Homo sapiens: one gene and its partner. Changing the gene in region 1 together with any one later gene gives a genetic interaction. Each region holds a gene or a part of one and is shown on either strand. Other genes may lie near its edges.

Region 1 (3,822 bases):
TGGGAGGATTGCCTGAGTTCAGGAGATGGAGACCAGCCTGGGCAACATGGTGAAACCCCGTCTCTACTAAAAATACAAAAACTAGCTGGATGTGGTGGCACACACCTGTAGTCCCAGCTATTCAGGAGGCTGAGGTGGGAGGATCCCAGGAGGTAGAGGTCACAATGAGCCGAGATTGCGCCACTGCACTCCAGGCTGGGTTACTGAGCCAGATCCTGTCTCAAAAAAAAAAAAGATAATACATTCAAACAGTTCAAAATGCAAAAGTTACATACATAAGGAAGTGTCATGAAATATCTCCCTCTCACACTTCTCCCCAGCCACCCAGTTCTCCCTTCTAGAGGCAACATGTGAAATCCTTCTCAGGCTACACTCTTCTTGAAGGTGTAGGCTTTGGGCAAAAGCATTCATTCAGTAACCCCAGAAACTTGTTCTGTTTTTCCATAGGATTCTCTTTGGACAGCGTCCATACTGGTGGGTTTTGGATACTGACTACTACAGCAACACTTCCGTGCCCCTGATAAAGCAGTTCCCTGTAACCTGTGAGACTGGACCAGGTAAGCGTCCCAGCCCCTGCAGACAGAAGCTGAGTGGACCTCGTTTACCTGTTATGGATGAAACTGACCTTGAGGGGACATGAGGAGAGCCATTCCTTTGTACTTTTGTCATGCTCTTCAATTGGCACAAATTAATTCACTTCTGCAATACTTTCCTGAATAGCACAGTAGTATTGGAAATCTGCCTATTACAGAACCTGGATGGAGTCCAGAGAGGCACGGGCATCCATGGGCAAAGGGCTCGTGAGAGTCACCGCCCTGCAGCGCTGTGTCCTGAGAAAGGAGGGGGCAGAAGCCTGAGCTTCTGGGGGTCCTTCCCAATGGCCTGGCCCACTGGATGTGCCCTCCTGAGCTGACCGTCCAATCCCTTGCCCTCTCTGTGCCTACGTTTTATTAGTTACAGCCAGATGGTTACTGTCAAATCAAATGATAGATTTCATTTTCAGTATGTAATAGGAAGCCCCTCCCTCACCCTAAAGTCTCAGCTGCCCTCTAAGACTAGTACTCTCTAAGGTACTAGTATCCCTTCCTCAGAGACCCTTTCCCTGACCCCAAAACTAGGGAAGGTCCCTTAGTTATTTGCTCTCACAGACCACGCATTTACCTCAGAGCATATTCACTCATTCAGCTGTTACTTACCAAGCACCTACTGGGAGCTATACACTGTTCTATGTGCTAGGGATACCTCTGTCAGTGAACAACACAGACACAAAGATCCCTGCCCTTGTGGAGCTGAAATCTGAATAGAGGAGGTGAAATATACAAAAATTATAATAAATAAGTAAACTAGGCCAGTTGTGGTTGCTCATGCCTGTAATCCCAGCACTTTGGGAAGCCAAGGTAGGTAGATCACCTGAGGTCAGGAGTTCAAAACCAGCCTGGCCAACATTGCAAAATCCTGTCTTTACTAAAAATGGAAAAATTGGTCAGGCGTGATGGCACACGCCTGTAGTCTCAGCTACCTGGGAGGCTGAGGCAGGAGAATCGCTTGAACCTGGGAGGCAGAGGTTGCAGTGAACCGAGATCGGACCACTGCACTCCAGCCTGAATGACAGAACGAGACTCTGTCTCAAAAAAAAAGTAAACTATTAATATGTAGGATAGGCCAGGCACGGTGGCTCACCCTGTAATCCCAGCACTTTGGGAGGCTGAGGCGGGTGGATCACCTGAGGTGAGGAGTTCAAGACCAGCCTGGCCAACATGGCAAAACCCTGTCTCTACTAAAAATACAAAAATTAGCTGGGTGTCCTGGTGCATGCCTGTAATCTGAGCTACTCAGGAGGCTAAGGCAGGAGAATCGCTTGAACCTGGGAGGTGGTGAGCCAAGATTGCGCCATTGCACTCCAGCCTGGGCGACAAAATGAGACACCATCTGAAAAAAAAAAAAAAATATATATATATATACACACACACACACACACACACACACACACACATATAATACTAGAAAATGATTGTTTATAGGCAAAAAAAAAAAAAAAGAAGAAGAAGAAGAAAAGGAAAGGAGAAGGAAAGAAGGACCAAACATCTTTTGTAGAAATATGTTTGCTTTCATCATAACAGCTTGTTATCAAGGATGAATTTCTCCCTGAAATTAATGGAGGCACAGACTGGAAAGTTTAAAGTGGCTTTAAGAGGTTATTTTATTTAGTCCTCTGTCTTAATAGAAGCAAATTATTATCTCTGCTCCTTAGGTAGAGTAGCTAAGGCTCAGAAAGTAGGCCGGGCGCGGTGGCTCACGCCTGTAATCCTAGCACTTTGGGAGGCCAACGCAGGTGGATCACCTGAGGTCAGGAGTTTGAGACCAGCCTGGCCAACATGGTGAAACCTCGTCACTAATAAAAAAATACAAAAACTTAGCCAGGCATGGTGGCGGGCGCCTGTAATCCCAGCTACCCAGGAGGCTGCGGCAGGAGAATCACTTCAACCCGGGAGGCAGAGGTTGCAGTGAGCTGAAATCACACCACTGCACTCCAGCCTTGGTGACAGAGAAAGATTCTGTCAGGAAAAAAAAAAAAAAGTTTAAATGAATTACCCAAGGTATATAATTGTTAGTGTTAGAAGGAAGAAGAAGGGAGGGAGGAAGGAAGGGAGAAAGAAAGGGAAGGAGGAAGGGAGGGAGGGAAGAAAGCCTTTATTTATCTATGGGGTTCCCTGGAAAGCAGGCTGAAATGGAGATTCACGTGCAGGAGTTTAGATACTCTGGGGAACTATACTTGTAGAAGGGAAGGAACAGGAACAGGGCAGAAGGAGAGGTCCGGTTGTGATTCTGCCTCATCCAACCCCACAGCGAGCTCTGAAGCTGGGGATGGCTCCTCAGAGTTGGTCCAAGTTGGGACAAGGGAATCAGACCCTGGGGAGAGCGTAACCTTGATCAAGGCGACTCTCTTTAGCCCAGGGCAATGCCAGGAGAAGGCTGAGAGCAGAAAGCCATCTACCATCACACTCTCAACAGCTACGAAATAAGTCCTGCAGTTCAGGAGGGAGGTCTGGGCGGCACATCTCAGGACCCTCTATCTCTCAGGGTAGAGGAATTAAGAATGGGATGGGAACCAGACGGGCCATGGTGGCTCACACCTATAATCCCAACACTTTGGGAGGCCAAGGGTAGGAGGATTGCTTGAGCCCAAGAGTTCAAAACCAGCCTGGGCAAAAACAATCAAACAAACAAACAAAACACATTTAAAAAATTTGCTGTGTGTGGTGGTGTGCACCTGTGGTCCCAGCTACTCAGGGGGCTGAGGTGGGAGGATTGCTTGAGTCCAGGAGGTCGAGGCTGCAGTGAGCTATGATCATGGCACTGCATTGCAGCCTAGGAGACAAAGCAAGACACTGTCTCTAAAAAAACAAAAAACAAACAAATAAAAAAACGGAACCGGTTGCAAGCAGGGTTAAATAGCGTGGTCAGAGTAGGACTCACTGAGAATATGAGATCTGAGTCAAGTCTTCAAGGATGTGAGGAAGTAAGTTTCTGGCAGAAGAGCTGTGAAGGGCTGTCTGGCCAGAGAAGATTGCAATGCAAAAGCCCTGAGGTGGGAACGTGTTTGGTGTGTTTAAAGGAAAGCAATGAGGCCAGTGTAGCCAGAACAGAGTGTGCAAGGAGAGAAGGAACAGAAGATGTGGAGGGCAGATCAGTTTGTAATTGTACGCCCAGTATGCTGATTCTTTGTGTAATCTCCAGACTGTATTAAACTGCAAGAGCAGGGCCCCTCTCTGGCTTTGCTCATCATTGTATTCCCAGAGCCTTGCACAATGCTTGGTGCAT
Region 2 (3,822 bases), about 12 Mb from region 1:
TTCAAGAATTCATCCTCTCTTACAATTGAGATTTCTCAGTTAAAAGTTTCCTGACCTCCCACTTTCTTTGCAGTTGTTCTGAACACTTACATATACCAGATACACGCCAAAAGTAGAAGAAAAAAAGTTAAAGAAAAGGCAGCATTAAATTTAGGCAAGGCTTCGAAGAGTTGATCATCTGGCAACATGGCAAACCGGATGGGTTCATTATAAAACAGGAAGTGCAGCATTACAACATGGGGGGAAAGGGCAAGGACAGGGAAGGGGTCACTAGTGAAGAGCCCATGTTAAGTTGATTTTAAAAAAGAAAGCAAGCAAGCTTCACACGATCTTCTTAATGCTATTACGTTTGAAACTGCCAGCGCTTCTTTGCTTCTGCACTTGGCTTGCGGATCCGTGGCGAGTTCGTCCACTGTTACAGTGGCCAGTGGTAGGGGAGAGTTCAACGTTCTCCTTGTCGATTCCTGGAGAAAAAGAGAACAGCCAGTTACTTCTTCTTTTCCTTCCAGGACTGAATTTCATTGCAGTCATGTGTCGCTTAACAACGGGGACACATTCTAGGAAACAATCATTAGGCGATTTTGTCTGTGCAAATATTGTGGAGTGTACTTACATGAACTTAGATAGCATAGCCTACTACACACCAAGGCTATATGGTATAGCCTGTTTCTCCCAGGCAACAAACCTGTACAGCAGGTTACCATATTGTGTACTTTATGTAGTTGTAACACAATGCTAACTATTTGTATATCTAACACAGAAAAGGTACAGTAAAAATACAGTATTATAATCTTTCGGGACCACTGTCTATATGTGTTCTGTTGTTGACTGCAATGTTGTTATGCAGCACATGACTATATTTGTGATAAGATACAACCTGGCAAATTGTTTATGCACATTTCATTTTAATAGTCAATTGCTAAAATGTTTACTAAGTTAATGTCACATGGAAAACTTCACATTTTGTTATGCAAAGTTTGCTATCATAGCAGAAAATAGCACAAGAAAAATGAAAAGACAAGTTGCAAGGAAAAGCTAGAGGCTGGCAGGCTTGAACTAAATGAAAGGCTAGCAGCCACCAGGGAAGACTAGTGCTCCTTCCTCCAAATCATACCAGAAACTTCCAGCAGAGGTCATCTTCTAGCCTTATTCACATCCTCATTCATGTTTATAAACAGAATATACTCTCCAGCAGCAGAAAGTACTGATCTTTCCAGCAAATTTGTCACTTCAAAGAAAACTCAAGATGCTTTTATTTTTTTAATCACAGTGCCTATCCCAAAGAAACTATTTACTGAGAAAATAATATATCACAAAGGTCATACTGTAGAATCTTTGCTTCTTTTCAGCTATGCCAAGTCATTTCACATTCTGCAACCTTAAACAGATGCCATTTATTTCTCTTGAGGAGGAGATTAAACCTCCAAAACCTGGGCCTAACAATGATTGATTATTTATTTAGAGACAGGGTCTTGCCCTGTTGCACAGGCTGCAGTGCAGTGGTGTGATCATAGCTCACTATAACCTTGAACTTCCAGGCTCAAGCTATCCTCTCGCCTCAGCCTCCCAAACAGCTAGGACTACAGGTGCATGCCACCATGCCCAGCTAATTTTAAAATTCTGTCTAGAGATAGAGTCTCACTATGTTGCCAAGGCTGGTCTTGAACTCCTGGTCTCAAGCAATCCTTCCATCTTGGCCTCTCAAAGTTCTGGGATTACAAGCATGAGCCACTGCACCCCACCCCAATTAATATTATAAATAATCTAAGCAGTAACTTCAGAAAAGTAACCAGAAACTAAAATAAGATTTTTATTTTTATCTATCACATTAGGAAAGATTACAAATTGGGTAACAGGACTGTGGTCACCCTTGCGGAAGTAGTGACTTAAGGGGGCATGAGGATGGCTTCTTGGGATGCTGGTAATGTTCTGTTTCTTGATGTAGATGATGGATTTTCAAGTGTGTTTACATTTTAAAAGTTCACTAAGCTGAAAACTTGCAATTTGTGAACTTTTCTGTTAAACATCAATAAAATTTACCCCCAAAATTAGACTGATTATACTTACTGCTGGCATAAATTTTGGCGGGAAAGCAAACAGCTGCAGAACGTTTTAGTAATTTGTATCAAAATGTACATTACTGATTGATATTTACTGATACAAAAAGATGACCACAATTTTTGGAGTAGGAAAAAAACACCCACACACTGTGGGGAGAGGGCGTAGGGCTGGGTAAACATCTGCCAAAATATTTTATCTCTGTCAGAAGCCAAAGGACTAAAAAATATATTTTACCTCTGTATGGCAAGATTTCAGCTAATTTGTACTTTATTCTTCTTTATATATTGAAATTTTAAATCTTAGAATAGAAAAATTTCCATTTTTGGACAAAAAGTAATATTTCAAGTCAAGAAGTATTCATTATGTTACAGAAAATGTACATAGATCTACCCAGTTAGTTATTTGTTGGCTCATGAACAGGAAATGAACTTGGGATGACCTCCCTCTAGGAGCCACTCATCTTTCATTTGGATTCAGCTCTGAATTCGACTCAAGAGTATCAGGCATCTGTAAGCACGTGGCCTGGTTTACACGTGCTCAACAGAGATTTGCTGTCTTGAAAATCTGAACTGCTGTCAAAGGAACATGGGCATTTGTCAGTGACTGTTTATGAACATGTGCACTGCATCAGGCATATGAGTGCAAGGAAAAACATCAGCGACATTTCTCCAGGAGGTGAGCATAGCTGAACCACCACTGAAAATCTGTTCTATTCAAATCTTTTTTAAAACCCTTATTAAATTTTTTAAGGCTAGTCATGTTCTAATCTAATCTAATCTAATCATATGCATAGAAAGATGACTAGAAACATTCATGGAACTTTTCTCTGGGTAACAGAATTCTGGTCTATTTAAATTCTCTTCTGTATATTTATTTGCATCCTCTCCAGAGCTATTTACAAAAGAAATAACAAAACTGAAAGAAAGCTGCTCATGATCTCTGGAATGTGCCTTGAGCTTCTTTGGGATGTATGTTTGTGTAGGCTCTTTTAATTGTCTTGCGTATCTCTACAAGATAAAATTCAACCCATATTTTTTTTTCTCATATCCTTTTCCTTCATGATGCATTATTCTGTCTCTTGCCAGAACTACTTTCTCCTTCCTTGCTTTTAAATTAACTTGCCTATGATTCTACAACTTGTACATCCATCTTCCTCTACTGAGTAAAGGCACTGAGAAGGGTAAAGATCATTATTATTCATTTTTGTTTTCCTGTAAAATCTAGTTATTTTTTCAATACATTGAAAAATTATTTTCAATTAATACTGAATGAACTGAACACTTCCATTTTAAAATGTGATAGCTAGATACCTGTAATTCAGAGCCCCAAAGCATGCAATCCCTGATCTCCAGAGAGTGGTATAATATTTTTAGTTGAAAAGATAGAACTTTTTTTTTTCCCTTTGGCATCCTCCACTTAAAATTATGAATTTGTCAGCGTATTTGACCTTCCATTTCCTCAAATTTGCATTTGGCCTACAAGTTTCAAGTCCAGTAATTCTGAGTTGTTTCTTTAATAGAAAATAAGATTCAGGCAAAACTAGGACCTTAAAAAGACAAAGGTTTGAAACAACTTGGAGCTGGCCCGCATGCAGGAGGGGCATGAAGCATGGATGACCACTAGGAAGGCCCTGTGACTCTCTGCCAGCAATCTGCTACCCTGGGGCTCGTTCTTGTGTGTCTTGCTACTACTAGACCATGGCCTACTCTGAGGGGAAAACAGTCATGACATGGGTGGCAATGCTTCTGTTTGGGCACAGTG

What was found.
Region 2: changes in G6PC1 (region 1) and NF1 together harm fitness more than expected from each alone (negative genetic interaction), as found in Homo sapiens cells (one large-scale study listed by BioGRID).

What each region holds. Positions count from the first base shown.
Region 1 is NC_000017.11:42,903,484-42,907,305, forward strand, and holds part of G6PC1 (glucose-6-phosphatase catalytic subunit 1), read left to right. Parts: intron 1-447; coding exon 448-557; intron 558-3,822.
Region 2 is NC_000017.11:31,370,655-31,374,476, reverse strand, and holds part of NF1 (neurofibromin), read right to left. Parts: intron 465-3,822; coding exon 322-464; 3' UTR 1-321. UniProt on the Homo sapiens protein: Stimulates the GTPase activity of Ras. NF1 shows greater affinity for Ras GAP, but lower specific activity. May be a regulator of Ras activity.